Homo sapiens: one gene and its partner. The protein of the gene in region 2 interacts with the protein of the main gene of each other region in a pairwise test. Each region holds a gene or a part of one and is shown on either strand. Other genes may lie near its edges. The genes, in order: ZNF396 and PROSER3.

Region 1 (10,546 bases), on a different chromosome or scaffold from region 2:
CTTCCCACCTCTCAGGTCTTGTTCCCCAGACTCTTCTGGCCCCGCTTCATCTGGGAGCGCGGCTGCCTGCCGCCACTTCCTCCTCTGCGCTGAGACAACGCGCAGGGGTCACCACAAGGGCCCCTGCTGCCTATGGCCTCTAACCACACAGCACCATGGATAAATGTGGACGGCCTGGGTTCAGACCCCAGCTTTGCCCTTGGCCAGAGTACCTGGCTTTGCTGTGACTGCTTCCCCGTCTACAACATGGGGGTAAAAATAATCTAGGGCTTTTATGAGGATTTAACCTTTGTTTATTTTTACTAAGGTGTTCAAAACAGTGCTTGGCACATAGTAAATTCTGTTAATATGTGTGTCTGCTATTGTTTGTTTCATAGCACATCATTGTGTAAAGTTGTATCATTTATTTGGTAACAACTTTATGAACTCACAGGCTTTATACAGGGCCTAGAACAATACTTGGTGAAGTGAGAAAATAAGTCAAATGGCAGGATACATAACGATGGAAGACGGAGGCGCACGTAAGATTTTTAAAGTAGTCATCATTTGCTGAAGTTGTACAAACACTATCATATACCTCCTGCCCAATTTAAAAAATATGATTAGACCGGGTGCAGAGCCTCACGCCTGTACTCCCAGCATTTTGGGAGGCCGAGGCAGAGGGATCACCTGAGGTCAGGAGTTCGAGACCAGCCTGGCCAACATGGTGAAACCCCGTCTCTACTAAAATTATAAAAATTAGCCGGGCGTGGTGGTACACGTCTGCAATCCCAGCTACTTGGGAGGCTGAGGCAGGAGAATCGCTTGAACCCAGAAGGCAGAGGTTGCAGTGAGCCAAGATCCCGCCATTGTACTCCAGCCTGGGCAACAGGGCCAGACTCTGTCTCAAACAAAACAAAACAACAACAACAACAAAATGAGATTAGTTACTGGTGATACTTAACAGTAAAATGATACAAAGGAAAGTGCCGTCCCCCCCCAACTTTGTTGCTAACGAGCTAATAATACTTGAAGAAATCGTTGCCCTCACAAGTCACTATGATTGTGATGGTATTGTGAATTGATACAGTCTTTGTGCAATATTTTGATAATACATAGCAAGACAGAATTTGCTCTTCTCCTTTGATCCTCAACAAGCAGAGGCCTTGGGACATGCTTGAAAGAAATACTTTGAAAGGAGAAAAACAGTATATTCATAAAGATGTGCCTCCCAGCATTAATTATAATAGTGAAATTAGAAACAACCTAAGTATTTTAAAATAGTTAAGTAAGTAATATGGATATGGAAAAAAATAGAAATACATTCAGATGAAGGAACGTGATTGCCTTTTTTGTTGTTTTTTCTTTTTTTTTTTTTTTTGGTGGGGTAGAGATGGGGTCCCATTATGTTGCACAGGCTGGTCCCAAACTCCTGGGCTCAGGTGATCCTCCCATCTCCCACCTCGGCTTCCCAAAGTGCTGGGATTTCAGGCATAAGCACAGTGCCCAGCTGATTGGTTTATTTTTTTTTTAATGGTTCCTTTAATGTCGAAGTAATGTTTTAACAGTAAAAGCTGAAAAAAGTCACACAAAAGTGCTTCCCTCATGAGACTATTTCTTTGAGCTCTTTGCAGCACACTAAATACCGATTGGCTCTTTGAACTGGCTCCAGAGTTAGAGCATTTCTCAGGCTTCCCTTATTTCCATTATCTGGGAGCTTCTATGCAATCCTGGCTGATCTCTTATTGTAATATTCAGTAGCCTTGTGGGCATGGTTTTCAGAATGAATTGTGAATCACTTATGCATATGAATTAATGAGTCTTAGCTGTTTGGTTCTCTTAAAGAAGTATTCTTCAAAAGCATGGTTTCTGGGCCTGGCGTGGTGGCTCAAGCCTGTAATCCCAGCACCTCAGGAGGCCAAGGCGGGTGGATCACCTGAGGTCAGGAGTTCGAGACTAGCCTGGCCAACGTGGTGAAACCCTGTCTCTACTGAAAATACAAAAATTAGCCAGGCGTGGTGGCGGGTACCTGTAGTCCCAGCTACTTAGGACGCTGAAGCATGAGAATCACTTGAACCCAGGAGGCAGAGGTTGCAGTGAGCCGAGATCACACCATTGCACTCCAGCCTGGGCAACAGAGCAAGACTCCATCTCAAAAATAAATAAATAAATAAAAGCATGGTTTCTGTTAAGACTAAGGTCAGTAGTTCCTATACAGTCTTATGTTTCTAATCTTAGTTGTTTTGTTCTAAGAAGCATTTGTCTTTTGTCTTCTTTCCACTTGTTTCTTTAATCATATTTAAGGAGTGTCCATCAGGACAGCTTCACCTCCTTGAGGATTAAAGCCTAACAGTACTGAGCTATTTGTCTGTCAAAATGTCTGCAAAATTGGGAAAGTCATCATCACTCCTAACACAAACTTCAGAGGAGTGTAATGGGATTCTGACAGAGAAGATGGAAGAGGAAGAGCAGACCTGTGATCCAGACTCTAGCCTCCACTGGAGCAGCAGCTACAGCCCAGAGACCTTCCGCCAGCAATTCAGGCAGTTTGGCTACCAGGATTCACCTGGGCCCCATGAGGCTCTGAGCCGGCTCTGGGAACTTTGTCATCTCTGGCTGAGGCCGGAAGTGCACACCAAGGAGCAGATCCTGGAGCTGCTGGTGCTGGAGCAGTTCCTGGCCATCCTCCCAAAAGAGCTTCAGGCCTGGGTGCAGAAGCATCATCCAGAGAATGGAGAGGAAACTGTGACTATGCTGGAGGATGTGGAGAGAGAGCTTGATGGACCAAAGCAGGTAAGAAGGATGCCTGTGGAGATGAACCCCCAGGCTGAGTCAAGAGCACTGGCACATCATTGGGAGTAGAGCTCTCAAACTGTATTCCCACTCAGCACAACTGGATGTATAGGGGTGAAAGTACTAATGGGTGTCCCAGCAAATAGAAGGTGGCTCTACTTTTTCCCTCCCTTTTCCTGTGTCCATGATACTTTTTGCATAGTTTCTTCTCTGTTATTTTATCCTCAAGTCCCAACCTGATGGTGTTCTTCAGCCTCAATTATTCCTGTTTTTAGATCTTTTTTGGACGAAGGAAGGACATGATTGCAGAGAAGCTAGCACCTTCAGAAATCACTGAGGAATTGCCAAGTAGCCAGCTCATGCCCGTGAAGAAGCAGCTCCAGGGAGCATCATGGGAGCTTCAGTCCTTAAGACCACATGGTGAGGGGGCAGGATTCAGTTCATGTTGGAAGGTGTGGGGGCCCTCTGCTCACCACACACATCTCAGCTGATTTATGCAAGAGGCCTCAAATCTCCCCCTCTCATCTCCTCCTTACTGTGGGAACTTCTGTTATTTGTCCTACTAAATGAAGATCTTCAGTATTTTGTTCTTGCTTCTTTTTCAGAGATTCTTATAAAATCTTCAGACTTTAAATCCCTGACATCTGCATCAGGGTTTTCATGCCTTTTTAAAGTAGCCCTTTTATCTTCAGGCAGCCCTTGAGGCCTTTCTGTGGGACCCCAAGGTACACAGCCCAGAGACCACTGATCCTCATCATCATTTCCTATATAACTGCTCAGTTACTGGTGGGATCTCGTAGCAGAATCGCCTATATTGCTGCTAAGGTGACTTTGCTCTCATACGTGCTTTGAATACACTTCTCTACTCCCTCACATCTTCAACTGGCCTCAACTGCTCTTTGCATTGCTTTCTATAAGTGCTCCAGAATAGCTGTGTAGCAATCTATTCTTCCATTGCAGATACTAAACAAATAAGTGCTATGGGGAAAAAATAAAAACAAAACAGAATAAGGGGGCTAGAGGGAAGGTGAGAAGTAGAAATAAGGCTGAGTTAGAGGCCTTGTAGGCTGTGACTGCTCCTGCTTCAGACAGAGTAGCTGTGTTTTCGTCTGTTTTATATATTGGAACTCAATGTAAAATTTCATTTGATAAAAGGGCCATGCTACTTTAAACAGAATGGTGGGGATAGGATCTTATTATATAGAGTGGTAGAAAGGCCTCTCTGATGAAGCGACATTTGAGCAGAGACCCTCCTTCTAGATGATCATCCTGGATAAAATAGGAGCCAGAGATTAAGAGGGAAATCCTACTTGGGAGCATCTCCTTCCTTCTCTCCAGCACTGCTTCCATAGTTCAGGAGTGGCTGATAGCTAAGCAAGGTTAGAGTTTTTCCAAGGGAATTTTTATAAGAAACTACACAAAGGAAATACAGTAATTTAGAAAGAGATTTAGAAAACATTGTTCACCCTAACTTGGCAAGTACTGGCTCTCTGAAGGCTTATACTGGGACACGTAATACCTCCAGTCTAGAAATTGTCTTGGTATACTTAGAAAAGTGAAAGTCTTTTCACGAAAAAGTATTTTCCGTCAGGAAAGGGAGGGAGACCATCCCAGCCTCAGCAGCTTGGTGTGGTGGTGACTACAGAAGTGATCAACCTCAAAGCCAGGTGTGGCAAGAACCACATCCTACCTGTGAATGTCCTCATGGAGGCCTTTCCTACATTTTTTTTTAAGATTCGTAGAAATTTGAAACAGAATGCAACAGGTCCAGGATCTTGCAGTACAAGGCAGAGAGAACCAGAATCACTTGATAGAATAATAGAACCATTTCTTAAGGCCACAACATGATTTCTGTGGTACTGAGTCATGTCTTATGAAAGCTTCTGGGAGATGATCTTGGTCTCAGTACTGTAAAGTACTAATTGATGCCAGGATTTTGATAGTAATGACTAATCATTGAGGTCACTTTGGAATATAAACTATCAAAAATGAATTTGAGACAGAATCCTTACCATTTATAAAATGATTTCCACTTAAACTAGTAATAATAAATGAGTATGCCATATGCTATGGTTTGAATATTTGTCTCCTCCAAAACTTGTGTTGAAACTTAATCCCAAGTGTGGCAGTATTGAGAAGTGAGGCCTTTGAGAGGTAATTGAATTATCACCCCTGCCCTCATAAATGGATTAACTCATTCATGGATTAATGGGTTAATTGGTGATCATAGGAGAACTGGTAACTTTATAAGAAGAGGAAGAAAGGGCTGAGTTAGCATATTAGCATGCTCAGCCCCCTCACCATGAAATGCCCTCCACTGCCTCAGGACTCTTCAGAGGGTCTCCACCAGCAAGAAGGCTCTCACCAGATGCACCCCTCCACCCTGGACTTCTCAACCTCCATAACTATAAGAAATAAATTCTTTTTATAAATAAATTACTCAAGTTCAGGTATTCTATTCTAAACAACAGAAAATGGACTGAGACACCATATTTGTGAATAAATACAATAAATAATTTTAAATTCCTTTTGTAATAACTATTTAGACCCATTTGATTTGATTTTTATATATTTTTTCAAGTTAGGTTTATTTAGTTTGCTGCAGCAAGAAAGAGAACACGGCACAGAAACTATGGGGTGTGTCATTAAGAAGGAATTGGGAAGGGCTTATGTTAAGATTTGAGCTTATGTTGGGTGATTCTAAGGAGATTGTAGAGACAGCAGGTAGATCCATTTTAAGTAAATTCTAAAGAGTAAAACAACAACTCAGTTTTCTTATTCAGTATCACATTGCATCACTAATTCTTCTCCCCAGACTACCTTTCTCACCCTAACCTTTTCATTAGGCCTTGAGAGGGCCCAGGGAATCACTTATCATCAGTACCTCTCTGGGTTGCTTTTAATCTTATTTATATAATTACTTCAGATAAAGGCACCCCCAGTAGTCACAGTCAGCCCCAGCCAAGTCATCTCCCCAGACATGTCCAAAACTGTTGTACTTTGCTTTTATAAACTCATTTTAAGCTCCTGTCTTTCAGCAGCTTCAGTTAAAATGCCACCATGGGCCGGGCGCGGTGGCTCACGCCTGTAATCCCAGCACTTTGGGAGGCCGAGGCGGGCGGATCACGAGGTCAGGAGATCGAGACCATCCCGGCTAAAACGGTGAAACCCCGTCTCTACTAAAAAATACAAAAAATTAGCCGGGCGTAGTGGCGGGCGCCTGTAGTCCCAGCTACTTGGGAGACTGAGGCAGGAGAATGGCGTGAACCCGGGAGGCGGAGCTTGCAGTGAGCCGAGATCCCGCCACTGCACTCCAGCCTGGGCGACAGAGCGAGACTCCGTCTCAAAAAAAAAAAAAAAAAAAAAAAAAATGCCACCATGAGGATAACTGAAGTGATTTCTTCAGGTAATGCAACCACATTACACTGGCATTTTCACATCTGAGTTAGCAGTTCTGCTGGAGCTTTAGGCACCCTGAGTCATAAGGCCCTCTGCATCAAGCCAGGTTTGTGTGCCGCCTGAGTGGCCGCAGCCCATAAGCAGCCATGTACGTTTTTCATGGATGTTAAATGTAATACAAAATAATACAACAAACAGCGATTCAACCAGTAATATAAAATCCATACAGGAGTAGAGGTTTTTCATCAGTGGGTACTCTGCTACCCTTGATCTTTTGAGGTACTAGTTATCCTAGTCTATAATCTTCCCTTTATTGGCCTAACTTATATTTTCTTACTTTATTTTCCACATTCCTTTTTGGCCCCTTGGCTTTCTTCAGCTCATTTCTTTGCATAGTTACTGATTCCTTTATGAATATTAAGCTTTATTTATTTATTGATACTCCAGTACTAAATCTTGTTTGTTACTCCCACTGGCACATTGGATTCCTCTCCTTCTAGCTCTCTGTGTCTCCAATCATTTCTTCTTTCTAAGCCCTTTCTTTCCTTCCAGACTTTCCTTAGTCTCTGACATATCTTTTTATCCTTATTCCCTATTCTGTCTTTTCCATAGAACTTTGCAACTTTACAGTTTAGTTGACTGCCTCCTCAGTATGTAAACCTTTCTCTATGTCTTATATAAACTTCTCAATATTTTGTCTTACACTCTCCGTCCTTCACATTGTGTGTTGTTTTATAAACATGCTAGCAATAATCATGTATATTTCATTTGGATCATCCTTTCTCTTTCCTGGTGACATTTGTTTTTCCATTTCAGATGAAGACATCAAAACTACAAATGTGAAATCTGCTTCAAGGCAAAAGACTTCTTTAGGCATAGAACTGCATTGCAATGTTTCCAATATCCTTCATATGAATGGCTCCCAGAGTTCCACATATAGAGGAACCTATGAACAAGATGGTAGGTTTGAAAAGAGACAAGGAAACCCTTCTTGGAAAAAACAACAGAAATGTGATGAATGTGGCAAAATCTTTAGTCAGAGCTCAGCCCTTATTTTACATCAGAGAATCCACAGTGGAAAGAAACCTTATGCATGTGACGAGTGTGCAAAGGCATTCAGCCGAAGCGCAATTCTGATTCAGCATCGACGAACCCATACTGGTGAGAAGCCCTACAAGTGTCATGACTGTGGCAAAGCCTTTAGTCAGAGCTCAAATCTTTTTAGACATAGGAAAAGACACATTAGAAAAAAAGTCCCATAAGTATCATGAGGGAATCAAAGCATTTACTCAGAGCTATTTCAGCACAAGGGAAGACACCAGATGCAAACGCTCCTTAGTACAAATCAGTGGTCTTAGTAAGCACCAGTCTCCTTTCAAGACTCATGAAAGCCACAGGAGAGAAGGTTGAAGATCTCAGGTCAGCATTATTTGCTTTTCTGCTTATCAATGCAGTCTCAATTCTGACGTTTGCAATTCCAAAGCTTAATTCAGATTTCCATCCCTATGCAGGCCTTGAAAAGGCATTCTCAGACATGTTCTACTATTTTCATTATTAACACATATAATGAATTAGTATATATCTTTTTAGACAAGTATGTTTTTTCCCTCATTGAGAAGGAATGTGTGAGTTACTCAGTGTAAAAATAGACATTCTCCTCCATTTCATAACTTGAGCACTAGAATTCTAAAGACCAAAAATTAAAGCACTCAAAAAGAATTCCTGGCTGGGTGCGGTTGGCTCATGCCTGTAATCCTAGCACTTTGGGAGGCCGAGGCAGGCAGATTGCCTGAACTCAGGAGTTCAAGACCAGCCTGGACAACACGGCGAAACCCCGTCTCTACTAAAATTCAAAAAATTAGCCAGGCATGGCAACGTGTACCTGTAATCCCAGCTACTAGGGAGGCTGAGGCAGGAAAATTGCTTGAACCGCTCAGACAGAGCAAGACTCCGTCTTTAAAATAAATAAATAAATAAATAAATAAATAAATAAAAATAAAAATAAATTCCTATTTTGTCTTCTGTTACTAGATTCAAAATATGAACATGCGATTGCAGAGGCCCAAAAGAATATGTACTTCAAGACTAGGCTGAAGTGCCCCAGGTCACTTTCAGGAGGCAGATAAATAAAGGCCTTATCTTATGAAAGCACACAAGAGCCTCCATACTATTAATATCAAGTTAATTTCCCGTGTTGGAAAAAAATAATCTCCTTTGCAATGTAATTTGGAAATAAGTCAATGGAAACATGAAAATGACTGCTTGTCTACAAGGAGTCAGCTAAACATAAGGAATGTTTTCATAACAATATTAATCTATGGGTGCTTCTGTAAGATGGATGATCATCTTAATATAAAGAAAAAAGGGAGATGAACAAAATTGTCAAACAAGACTGATGTACCACAAGTGTTGTCAAGTACAGTGTGTGTCGGAGAGATGTACCACAGCTTAACTGGAAGAGGAAGCCCGTAACTGCTGATGACAATACTTTCAGTGTCCCCTTTTCTGGCATAAATCAACTATGAATATGTTTCAAGCATCACAAGACAACCTTTTCAGAGTCTTCTGTATTCTTAGTAAGATGAGTTTCTAGACACGCTGTCATGAAATGAGACCCTGGATTTTGATGCTCTTGTACATATGGACAAATCACTGAAGTTCAATTTAAAGGGTCCACTGCAGTCCCTTATAAACAATTGTTGAACCTAACCATTATAGTTTATAAGTTTTAAGACATTTATGGGATATCTTATTTGGCTTATCTATGGGATATGAGTAACTATGTTTTACCTGCATTTAATTCAGCCAGATTCCCTGTTTAAAATTACTGAATCGTACATTATTAAAATTATTCTGACAGTATACAAACAACAAAATTATCTATTTTCCAGAGATTCTTGATAAAACTCTGTAATGTTACTACAATAATACATGTATTGTGTTTTCCATGGTGCTACAGTTACACAATATGGAGGCAAACATCAGAAATCAAAGTCCTTGGAATAAGGGAAGAGACTCATAGTAAACTTCTTTGTCTGGTTGGGTTCCTCATAAAGTATAAAACATTTCATTCTCAGAAAATCCAACCATATCTTAGAGTATCTCCAGAAACTGGCTTAGAGGAGCTCCAAATATGTGGAATTACCACACTCTGCTTAGTTAGTATGCTGATAAATGTAAGATTAGTAGGAGGAGAAGTGAATGTAAATTTTATTATAGAATTTTCTGATAGTGATTATGATTTGTAGCTCTAGTGAATATGAATTTTATATTGAGTTGTGTGTATCTTGAGTCACTAAAAATGTAGGATACTTTTTATTTGGGGCTCATTGTCTTTGTAATTACGGAGAGGAACAAACCATCTATTGAAACAACAAGTGCCTCAGAGATGTATATATTGTGAATTACTGCTTAATTACGGAAAGAGTTTCTTAGGTTCTATGTGAATAAGATGGCAGAATCTAAATCAAGTATTTTGAAGGAAGCACCCATCTTCACTTGGTGCTGCCATCAACTTTGTAAGATTGCATTCTATTTATTGTGAATAATTTGAGTGTTTCCACAGGAAAGTGGTATGAATCATATCGTCTAAGTATATGATGAATCTTTAAAGGGTGTCTCTGTGTACTTTGAATTATTTTGCAGTTATGTAGGTATCCTAATGAGTGAATGGTACTAGTTTATATAAAAGGAGAATTCATTGAGCTAACCTTGGTTTTAAAAATTAGCATTAGCACCCCCATTATATTAATTTTCAGGGATAGTAAATACTCCAAAATGAAATTGGTATTGTTTTCTGGCTTTCACTTCATCTGGGCCTTCAAGATTACCAATAATCCTATATGGTTTGTTTGTTTTTGTTTGTTTTTGTTTACCACTCCCATTCTCTTCAGAGACCAAGTCAAATGTTCATCACTGTCCTTACAACAGTGGCTTAAAACAGCAAGCCTTTGTGTTAGGAATGCTTCTGGATGCAAAATCCATCTTTGGTGGTTTAAACAAATAGGAATTTTCAACCTGAAATCTGGAAGGTGGGTTGCTGGCTCTCAATCTGCAGCTGGAATGACGACTGGTCTAACTTTACCTCATGCTATTTTGTCCGATTTTCGAGAGAGCTGTCACAGCTCTAGGAACTAGGATTAAGTCAGGAAGAAAGGAGAAAGACAGCCATGCTAAGCAAAAAGCTTTCCAAAAACCTTAGCAAAATCTGGCTTATGTTTCCCTGTTGCAACTGTGTCTGGTAGGGCAAGCGTTTTCAACCTCTAGAGGGAAAGCAGGCCAGATGGGGGTTGAGGACGACATTGGGTTAGCCAACCGTGTTTGCCATACTAATCCTTTGCCACCTTCCTCCTTACGGGCAGACAACTATCTTTTG
Region 2 (10,546 bases):
GGAACTCGCTGCCGTCGGAGTCTGGGCCGGGGAGAAAAGAATGAGCTCCAAGGGGCCGGCCTCTTAGGGGGCTGGCCTGCCTCCAACATCCAGGAGGGCGCGGGCATCACCTTCTGCAGCCTGCAGCAGCAGGGCGGCCTGGGCAAGCAGGGCCTCCGAGGGGGCGTGGTCAGCAGCGGGCGGGGGCGGGGCCAGGGCCTCCGGAGACCCCACCTGGAAGGCTGGCGGCGAGGCCTTGACTGTGGTTGCCTGCTCAGCTGGAGAGAGTGGGACCTCGGGCTGCAGGCAGGCTCCAGGGGAAGGAGTGGCTTCGCTCTTCCGTATCACTGACCCCGCTGCGGGCGGCAAGGCCTTGGCTTTCAGAGACTCGGCCTTGGCCCGACACTGGGATTCAGATGGAGGGGGAGTGACCTTGGTTTGGGGTTGTGTGGCCTGGACTTTCGGAGATCCAGCCTTGGGTGGAGGGGGGCCCTCGAAGTGAGGAGGCGTGTCCTCCAGGCTGTCAGGGAACAGCCGAGCTGCCACTACCTGGCCCAGGACACCCCTGAGCTGAGGGCCAGGTCCCTGGCCAGCTGCAGGGACTTGCTCGGCAGCCTCTGGGCGAGGGGCTCTGCTCCTCCGAGACTTGGGCCCCAGGCTCTTAGGCTGGGCACAGCTGCTTGGGTCAGGGATGGGCAGGCCCTGGGGGACAGCTGGGGATGCGAGGGTGGAGGCTGGAGGTGCAGGGGTACAGGCCAGGGGAGCCGGGGTGGAGGCTGGGGGTGCAAGGGTGGAGGCCAGGGGAGCTGGGGTGGAGGCCGGGGGTTCGAGGGTGGAGGCCAGGGAAGCCGGGGGCGCGAGGGTAGAGCCCAGATGTGCTAGGGTGGAGGCCTGCTGCGTGGGAGGAACAGCCCCAAGGGATACCCAAGGCCCAGACTGTGGGGCCCAGAAGAACCCGTGGGAGCTGGGGGCCCAAAAGATGTGTGGAGAGGACACTGAGGGAAAAGGAGGCCTCTCCACATAGAAGGCCTCTGGTGGACCAGGCTGGGCCACACTGCTCCACAGTGGGACATGGTTAGGCTGGGTCCCCAGAGAACTGAGGGTCTCCACTGGAGCAGGAGAGGTCTGTAGACAGATAAGAGAGATCTGAGACAGAGAGAGAGAGGGTGGAGGGTCCTCAGTCCCCCTCAGACCCAGCCCCTCCTCCAGCTCCCCCCAGGCTCCTCCCTCCCTCGGCTCACCAACGTGCGGAGGGCAGGGGTCAGAGGCGGCACCCAAGCTCTGTCACCCTTGCTTCCCTGAGCCTGTTCAAGCTTCCGCCGCTGCCGCCACTGGTACAGAATGTCATCCTCTGGCCGAAGGGGTGCTTGGGAGGAGGCTGGGGCTGGAGCAGGGGTGGGGGTCTGGGCCTGGGCTGGTGCCGGGGATGCTGTAGGGGGAGGTAGAGAGGAGAGGGTGAGGCAGGGGCCAGGGAGATCAGCAACCCCAGGACAGCCTGCACACACGCCCTCCAACTGTGCAGGGGGTTACTCAGACAGGCTCTCCAGATACTGTCCCAGCTCCTCTCTGGGGTGGGAAGAGGGGAAGGGGTCAAAGTCAGGGGAGCGAGCACTCCTGGTCTTCTCCATCTGTCATCATTCAAGTCTTTGTTCATTATATATATATAGTCTTGTTCTGTCACCCAGGCTGGAGGGCAGTGGTGCGATCACTGCAGTCTCGACCTCCTGGGCTCAGGCGATCCTCCTGCCTTAACCTCCTGAGTAGCTGGGACAAAAGGCGTGTGCCACCACACGGGGGTAATTTTTATTTTTTTGTAGAGACAGGGTCTTGCTTTGTTGCCCAAGCTGGTCTCAAACTCCTGGGCTCAAGCCATCATCATCCCACCTGGGCCTCCCAAAGTGCTGGGATTATAGGCGTGAGTCACAGTGCCTGGTTTCATTCAACAAATATTTATTGAGCCGTTCTGGACACTGGAGTTACAGCAGTGACCAGAAGACATATTCCCCAGAATCTACCCACTCCCCCACCCGCTACAGCCCTCACCCTGCTCCAGCCCCACTCACCCAACCTGGACTCTTAAATAGCCTCCCTGGTCTCTCTACTCTCCTCCAAATCTGTTCCCTACTCTCAGCCAGAGGGAGCCTGTGAATACCTGAGTCAGACCAGGCCTCTCGTACTTAAGAACCCTCCCTTGGCTGCACCTCTCTCCCGGTAAAAGGCGAAGGCTTTGCCTTTTACACCTGTCGTTCCCTCTGCCTGGAATGCTCTTCCTTCATGTATCGCACGGTGCATTCTCTCACATCCATCAGATCTTGGTCACCTTCCCTGGCTTCCCTATTCAAAACTGCAACAACCAGCTGGGCATAACGAATGGCCCATTCTTATAACCCTAGTGCTTTGGGAAGCGAAGGCGGTGGGGGGATCGCTTGAGCCCAGGAGTTTGAGATCAGCCTGAGCAACATAGTGAGACCCTCATCTCAACAAATAAAAAAATAAAAACAATTAGCTGGGCATAGTGGTGCATGCCTGTAGTCCCAGCTACTCAGGAGGCTGAGGTTATAGGATTGCTTGAGCCCAGCAATTGGACTATGATGGCACCATTTATTTATTTATTTTTGAGATGGAGTCTCTCTCTGTCGCCCAAGCTGGAGTGCAATGGCGCAATCTCGGCTCACTGCAACCTCCGCCTCCCAGGTTCAAGTGATTCTCCTGCCTCAGCCTACTGAGTAGCTAAGACTACAGGCATGCACCACTATGCACCATTATGTACCACGCGTGGCTAATTTTTGTATTTTTAGTAGATACCGGGTTTCGCCACATTGGCCAGGCTGGTCTCAAACTCCTGAGCTCAGGCAATCTGCCCGCCTCGGCCTCCATGCCTGACCCACCTCATCTGGCCTTATCCCTGTTTTACAGCTGGAGAAACAAGGCCCAGAGAGGCCCAAAGTCCCATAGCTGGTCAGTGGCAGAGTTGGGATTTGCACCCAGGCTGCCCTCAGTCTTTGCCTCTCAGCCCTTACCGGGTGCCCTGGGGCCAAGGCCCTTGCTGGAGTCAGGGATGAAGGTCTCCGAGAAGGGAGAGAGGCCATCAGAGCTGGTGGGGAATGAGGAAGTGCTGGCATCGCTGGGGCTGAGGGAGGAGGAGGAGGAGATGGAGGCTTTGCTGCAGGGAGAAGGCAGGAGTGAGGCAATGGAGGTCTCGAGACCTGGGCCACGTGGAGCCGCAGTAGGAAGGGTGATGGGGGCAGGGGTGCGGGCACCTGCGTTTGAGCAGCCTGGCAGCTCTGCTCTGTAGGCTCAGCGTCTCCAGGTCCAGCAGGGATGAGTTCCATGTGTGGAGGTTCTGCAGGGTGACAGGGTCAGACGCCAGCCCCAACCCAAAGGCTGCTGGGAAGGGGGTTCTAAACAGAGGGCCTGGAATGCAGGTTGTACTGCCCTTGGTAACCTCACATGCCAGCTTAGGATCTGCTCCTCCTCCTCAGGGAGGAGAGACCCAGTTTTCCCCTTTGGATTAGCACCTTTTTTTTTTTCTTTTTTTTTTTGAGATTGAATTTCACTTGTTGCCCAGGCTGGAGTGCAATGGCACGATCTCGGCTCACAGCAACCTCCATCTCCTGGGTTCAAGCAATTCTCCTGCCTCAGCCTCCCAAGTACCTGGGATTACAGGCATGCGCCACCACGCTCGGCTAATTTTGTATTTTTAGTAGAGACAGGGCTTCTCCATGTTGGTCAGGCTGGTCTCAAACTCGCGACCTCAGGTGATCCGCCCACCTCAGTCTCCTAAAGTGCTGGGATTACAGGCGTGAGCCACCGCGCCCGGTGGATTAGCACCTTTCATGGACAAATCATGGTTGGAGGAGGATGGATCCCACCTCCCAGATCAGAGCTGCTTCATCAGAGCATTCTATCCTCTGGTTCACAGTGGTTGGCTCAAGGATGAGTGAATCACAGTGAGCCCTGGGGCTTCTGATGGAGCAATTCGAAAAGCCCCCACTTCCCACTGGAGTCACTGAGCCAGGACCATGGGAGCCTAGAGACCCCAAGGACCATCCTGGCTATTGTGAGGGGAAAGCCCGCCTGGGACTGAGCCCAAAAAAAGAGAAGCACAGAGGCGGGCGTGGTGGCTCACGCCTGCAATCCCAGCACTTTAGGAGGCCGAGGCAGGAAGATTGCTTGAGCCCAGGACTTCGAGACCAGCCTCGACAACAAAGTAAGATCCCATCTCTACAAAAAAACCAAAAAATTAGCTGGGCATGGTGGCGCATGCTGTAGTCCCAGGTACTCAGGAGGCGAAGGTTGCAAAGAGTTCAAGGCTGCAGTGAGCCATGATTGTGCCACTGCACTCCAGCCTAAGAGTAAGACCCTATCTAATTAAAAAAAAAAAAAAAGAAGGCCGGGCGCGGTGGCTCATGCCTGTAATCCTAGCACTTTGGGAGGCCGAGGTGGGTGGATCACAAGGTCAGGAGATGGAGACCATCCTGGCTAACATGGTGAAACCCCATCTCTACTAAAAATACAAAAAAAAATTAGCCGGGCGTGGTGGCAGGCACCTGTAGTCCCAGCTACTCGGGAGGCTGAGGCAGGAGAATGGCGTGAACCTGGGAGGCGGGGTTTGCAGTGAGCCGAGATCGCGCCACTGCACTCCAGCCTGGATGACAGCACAAGACTCCGTCTCAAAAAAAAAAAAAAAAGGCCGGGCTTGGTGGTTCACGCCTATAATCCTAGCACTTTGGGAGGCTGAGGTGGGCGGATTGCCGGAGGTCAGGAGTTCGAGACAAGCCTGGGCAACACGGTGAAATCCCATCTCTACTAAAAAAATACAAAAAAATTAGCTGGGTGTGGTGGCATGCACCTGTAGTCCCAGCTACTCAGGAGGCTGAGGCAGAAGAATTGCTTGACCCCGAGAGGCGGAGGTTGCAGTGAGCTGAGATGGCGCCACTGTACCCCAGCCTGGGTGACAGAGCAAGACTCTGTATCAAAAAAAAAAGGGGGGGCATGGAGCCCAGAGAGAGTTGGGTCTCTCCCAACATTATTCAAACACCTGGATCCAGGCATATCTGGAAACATCTACTTTTGGATTTCTCAATTACATTAGCCAGCAAATCCTCCTTTTCTGTTTTAGCTTCCTTGAAATGGGGATCAGCTCTAATTCTTTTTTTTTTTTTTTTGAGATGGAGTCTTGCTGTCGCCAGGCTGGAGTGCGCTGGCGCTATCTTGGCTCACTGCAACCTCCGTCTCCCGGGTTCAAGCAATTCTCCTGCCTCAGGCTCCTGAGTAGCTGGGATTACAGGTGTGTACCACCACGCCCGGCTAATTTTTGTATTTTTAGTAGAGACGGGGTTTCACCATGTTGGTCAGGCTGGTCCTGAACTCCTGACCTCGTGATCTGCCTGCCTCAGCCTACCAAAGTGCTGGGATTATAGGCATGAGCCACGGTGCCCAGGCTTTTTTTTTTTTTTTTTTTTTAAATAGAGACAGGGTCTTGCTCTACTGCCCAGGCTGGAGTGCAGTGGCATGATCATAGCTCACAGCAGCCTTGAACTCCTAGGCTCAAGCCATCCTCCAGCCTCAGGCTCTCAAGTAGCTGGGATTACAGGTACATACCACCACACCTGGTTCTCTCTCTCTCTCTCTTTTTTTTTTTTTTTTTAGTAGAGGCAGAATCTCACCATGTCACCCAAGCTGGTCTTGAACTCCTGGCCTCAAGCAGTCCTCTCACCTTGGCCTCCCAAAGTGCTGGGATTACAGGTGTGAGCCACTGCTCCTGATCTTCTAATTCTGTCCTAGGGCTGGTGTTGTCAGTTCAGGCACCCAAGGGAGGGAGTGAATGGGGATGTCACCTGCTTTATTTCCTGAAGGGGAGCCACAGCATGGGATGCACTGGTCACGTTGACCGCAGTAGGGACAGCTGTATGGGGTCTTCCTTCTGGTTTGTTGGCTCCTGCTGAGAAGCCCCAGTTGAGGTATGAGGGCCAGGAGGAGTGGCTGCTGGGGGCATTGATCAGCAAAGGTTTAGGGGTGGGAGTAGTGGATGGCACTGAAAGAGGTACCTGCTGCACTTTGACTGCTGGGGTCTGGAGAGTCAGACTGCAGCCACCAAAAGTCAGCTGGGGTTGGGCCTGCAGGCTGGCGCTCCTCTCGACTGGTGGGCTGAGCCTGGCGGAACCTGTTTATATACCTGTGAACATCAGGGGATAGGAGGTGAGTGGAGTGAGGAGAGCCAAATAATAATAAGAATAATTATAGCAGCCAACGTTTACCAAGCACCATGGCAGAGCCTGGTAGCTATCCCTCAATATCTGCTTTTCTTTCTTATATAGTCACATAACTGTTTTTGAGACAGGGTCTCGCTCTGTCACCCAGGCTGGAGGGCAGTGGTGCAATCATAGCTCACTGCAGCCCCCAACTCCTGGGCTCAAGAAATCCTCTCTCCTCAGCCTCCTGGGTAGCTGGGACACAGGTGCATGCCACCACACTCGGCTACTTTTTGTATTTTTATTTATTTATTTATTTGTAATTAATTAGTTTATTTTTTGAGACGGAGTTTTGCTCTTGTTGCCCAGGTTAGAGTGCAATGGCGTGATCTTGGCTCACTGCAACCTCTGCCTCCTGGTTCAAGTGATTCTTCTGCCTCAGCCTCCCAAGTCACTGGGATTACAGGCATGCACCACCACGCCCGGCTAATTTGGTAGAGACGGAGTTTCACCATGTTGGTCAGGCTGGTCTCAAACTCCTGATCTCAGGTGATCCACCCACTTTGGCCTCCCAAAGTGCTGGAATTACAGGCGTGAGCCACTGCAGCCCTGCCAATTTTTGTATTTTTAGTAGAAACGGGGTCTTGCCATGTTGCCCAGGCTGGTCAGGAACTCCTGGGCTTAAGGGATCCTGCCACTTTGGCTTCCCAAAGTGCTGGGATTACAGGAATGAGTCACTGTGCCCAGCCAGGAATGTAACTTTTAGCTGGGCACACAGCCAGTCTCCTATGGACTATATTTACCAGGTACCCTTGTAGCCTTGTGACCACGTGACTAAGTTCTTGACAAACAGGGTATGAAATGTGATTTTGGAAAGCTGATGTGGTTGAAAGCCATTTTGCACCATGAAGGAAAGGGCAACGGCCTAGAGTTCGGACAGCAACAAGACAGAAGTAACCTGTGTCCCTGACACCTCAACTACGGGTTGCCACATCATCCCTGGTGGCTTCTGCCTGGACTGCAGGTGAGGGAGGAATAAATTCTATCTTGTTTCAGCCATAATTAATTTGGGACTCTTTGTTACAGCAGCTGAACCTGTATTCTACAAATCTAAGTGGTGACTATGTGAGAAGCACTGCTAGAGATCATTATATATAGTAACTCACTGAAAGCTCAAAACAGCCCTAGGGGATGTGTACTATTAATATGCCCAATTTAGGCCTGGCAGTGGCTCACACCTGTAATCCCAGAACTTTGGGAGGCTGAGGCAGGTGGATCACCTGAGGTCAGGAGTTTGAGACCAGCCTGGCCAACATGGTGAAACCCCATCTCTACTAAAAATACACAAAATTAACCAGGTGTGGTGGTGGGCACCTGTAATCCCAGCTACTTGGGAGGCTGAGGCAGGAGAATCACTTGAACCCAGAAGGGAGAGGTTGCAGTAAGCCGAGATCATGCCACTGCATTCCAACTTGGGCAACAAGAGTGAAACTCCATCAAAAAAACAAAAACAAAAACAAAACAAAACAAAACACCCAATTTAGAGATAAATAAACTGAGGCTGGGCATGGTACGTCTGGCCTGTAATCACAGCACTTTTTGGAGGCCAAGGTGGGAGGTTTGCTGGGTGTGGTGGCATGCATCGTAATCCCAGCAACTCAGGAGGCTGAGGTGGGAGGACGGCTTGAGCCCAGGAGTTTGAGGTTATAGTGAGCTGTGATTGTACCACTGACCTCCAGCCTGAGTAACAGAGCGAGACCCTGTCTCTAAACAAATAAATAAATAAATAAAAAGAGATAAAGAAACTGAGGCCAAGATCATACAGAGAGTTAAATGACAGAGCTGGGATTTGAACTCAGGCAGTCTAGCACCAGAGTTCTTAACACACATAAACTGCCTGGTCCTAAAAGAGTGCTGCAGAAACAGCTCTGGCCATGATGATTATTACTGCATGCCTTCTCCCTCCCTCTAACCCAAAGCCTCTTTTTCCCCCAGGGCTGCTGGTACTTACTTGGCCACCACGGAGTCCCCGCTGTCAATCAGGGTGGGTGCTGGGGAGGCCCACATCTGTCCCTCAGTGGTGCTGGGCAGGGAGGGGGTCCCTGAACTGGATGGCCAGGACTCCTCAAACAGCTCAGGGGAGTTGGGACCTGTGGCTAGAGCCTTGGGAGCTTGTGGGAGCCTGGATCTCTGAGACCTGGATGGGCTCAGGGTCTAAGATCAGGGAAGAGCACAAGAAGAAAAAGTGTGAGGTCTCATGGGTCATCCCTGCAGGGGAACCAGGACACACACAAAGTCTCAGTCCAGAGGGGAGGAAACACATCCTGTAATGATAACAACCTAGTGTGATGGGGGCTCAGATGGGGAATCCAGGTGGTAGAGAGGGGGACAAGGGCAGGGCCGTGGGGAGGGGACAAGGGGCTGTCTCTTAAATCTCTCATCCCTATCTCTCATCACATGTCTTCCTACCCTCTAAAGGTCATTCTCTTGCTACTGGGCTGGCACTCAGCACTCTTTGAGGGGTGTCCTCACCTTGGGACACCAGGTCTGGCTCTGGGATGGCCAGTAGTGGCTTCGACCCAGGGGCGCATCTCCAAAGGGACTATCTTGAATGGAGAAAACTGGCAGGCTGCAAGAGGAAAGTGGGGTTCAGGCAGCACGTGGTTTCGCCGCAGCCCTGGGGAGGGGGACATTAGAGGAGGGCAGAACCAGACAATTCCCATAGATTCCTGGAGGAGACGGACTGTCATTTCCATGAAGCACCGTTGCACATTCAGGATATCGACAGTGGAAGGGTGAGTCCTGGGAGCCCGCCCCTGGAGCAGTCTTAACAGGGAGCAACTCAGGAACTGACAGCCGGTGGTTCTCAACCCTGGATCCAGTCTAGGAGGGGCTTTTCAACGTTACAGGCGCGCGGTTCCCATTCCAGACCAACAGAATCAGAATATCTATTAGTGGGGCTGGGCCTCCGTGTCTTTTCCGCAGCGTCCCAGGTGATTGCGAAGTGGAGTTCAGGTTAAGAATCGCGGCTCGCCGGGCGTGGTGGCTCACGCCTGTAATCCCAGCACTTTGGGATTACACCGAGGCGGGTGGATCACTTGAGGTCAGGTGTTCGAGACCAGCCTTACTAACATGGCGAAACCCCGTCTCTACTAAAAATATAAAAAATTAGCCAGGCGCGGTGGCAGGTGCCTGTAGTCCCAGCTACCTGGGAGGCTGAGGCATGAGAATTGCTTTAACCCGGGGGCAGAGGTTGCAGTAGCCAAGATTGTGCCACTGCACTCCAGTCTGGGCCAACAGAGCGAGAGACTCTGTCTTAAAAAAAAAGAAAGAAAGAAAGAACCGCGGCTGGATTATATCACCGAGCATTTCCCATACATTCCTGGGGGACACGAAGGCAAAGGGTAGATGGACTACAAGCCCCAGGATCCACTGGGCTCCGCCTCCGCGAGAAAGTTCAAAGACAACGCCCAGGCGTGTCTGGGGGCCATTTCAAAATGAAGAAATTCAGATCTCAAGCCTTTCTTGGACACCTTTAGAGGCAATAATTCCTTGGGGCCCACTCAGAGAGGAACATAAGACTCTTAGGGGACCCCCGGGATGCTAACGGCTACGGCTGGAGAGGCCAACGGCTGTGGAGCATGTTGGGAATTGTAGTTCCAGTGCGGTGGAGCCCTAGCGACTCCAGACCGTATCCAGCCCGTCCTAGGCTGTGCTGCTCTCGCCGTTGGTCCTCCCCAGCCTCCTGTAGTCCCTGGAAGAGCGATCGGCCTCACCTGCGGTCCATCCCGCGGCTCCCTCCGCGCTTCCGGCCGCTCTGCTCCTTCACCCAACAGGCCCCGCGCGCATCTCCGTCGCTTAGCAACGCCCTATCAGCCCCGCCCCTCTCTGTGCCCGCGCCGGAGGCGAGCGGCCTCCAAGGCGACCAATGAAAGAGAGGAAACAGAAGTACCCGGAGGGAGGTGTTTCAGGATTGGCTGGGACGACTGCCTGCCCGACAGGGCGTGTTTGATTGGAGAACCTGCCGAGTGTAGCAGTAATTGGCAAGACCGTGCACCAATGGGAAGGATCTGAGGCTGGGCTTGCGGTTAGGAGGTGATCTAAAGTACCCTCGCTTAAAAGTCCCGCTTTTTAAGCGCCTTCTTGCTGCAGAAGTCCTGTCCCGACCCCGGTCTAACTACCATTCTTTCTGTTGCAGGGGCAGTGGGGCGGGTTGGGGGGGGGGCGCGCTCTGCCCTCTCTCTAACCGCTATTCCTCCATCAGTTGGGCCAATCAGTCCGTCCCAACGGTCATCTAACTTCTTTCTTGCTGCAGGAGCAGCTGGTTGCATCAGTTGCCAGGTCTGGGCTCCTGGCCGAGGTAGCGGGATCAA

What was found.
Region 1: the proteins of PROSER3 (region 2) and ZNF396 interact in binary tests that used the Homo sapiens proteins (3 or more experiments, as listed by UniProt).

What each region holds. Positions count from the first base shown.
Region 1 is NC_000018.10:35,366,102-35,376,647, reverse strand, and holds the end of ZNF396 (zinc finger protein 396), read left to right. Parts: exon of another isoform or gene 1-521; intron 522-2,283; 5' UTR 2,284-2,355; coding exon 2,356-2,772; intron 2,773-3,047; coding exon 3,048-3,192; coding exon of another isoform or gene 3,193-3,263; exon of another isoform or gene 3,264-3,354; intron 3,355-6,987; coding exon 6,988-7,433; 3' UTR 7,434-8,202; coding exon of another isoform or gene 8,203-8,297; 3' UTR 8,298-9,954; downstream 9,955-10,546. UniProt on the Homo sapiens protein: Isoform 1 and isoform 2 act as DNA-dependent transcriptional repressors.
Region 2 is NC_000019.10:35,757,630-35,768,175, reverse strand, and holds the start of PROSER3 (proline and serine-rich protein 3), read right to left. Parts: upstream 10,001-10,546; 5' UTR 9,961-10,000; coding exon 9,950-9,960; intron 8,851-9,949; exon of another isoform or gene 8,803-8,850; coding exon 8,706-8,802; intron 8,388-8,705; coding exon 8,185-8,387; intron 6,158-8,184; coding exon 6,030-6,157; intron 5,924-6,029; coding exon 5,820-5,923; intron 3,323-5,819; coding exon 3,240-3,322; intron 3,143-3,239; coding exon 3,000-3,142; coding exon of another isoform or gene 2,989-2,999; exon of another isoform or gene 1,913-2,988; intron 1,409-1,912; coding exon 1,221-1,408; coding exon of another isoform or gene 1,167-1,220; intron 1,126-1,166; coding exon of another isoform or gene 1,105-1,125; coding exon 111-1,104; intron 22-110; coding exon 1-21.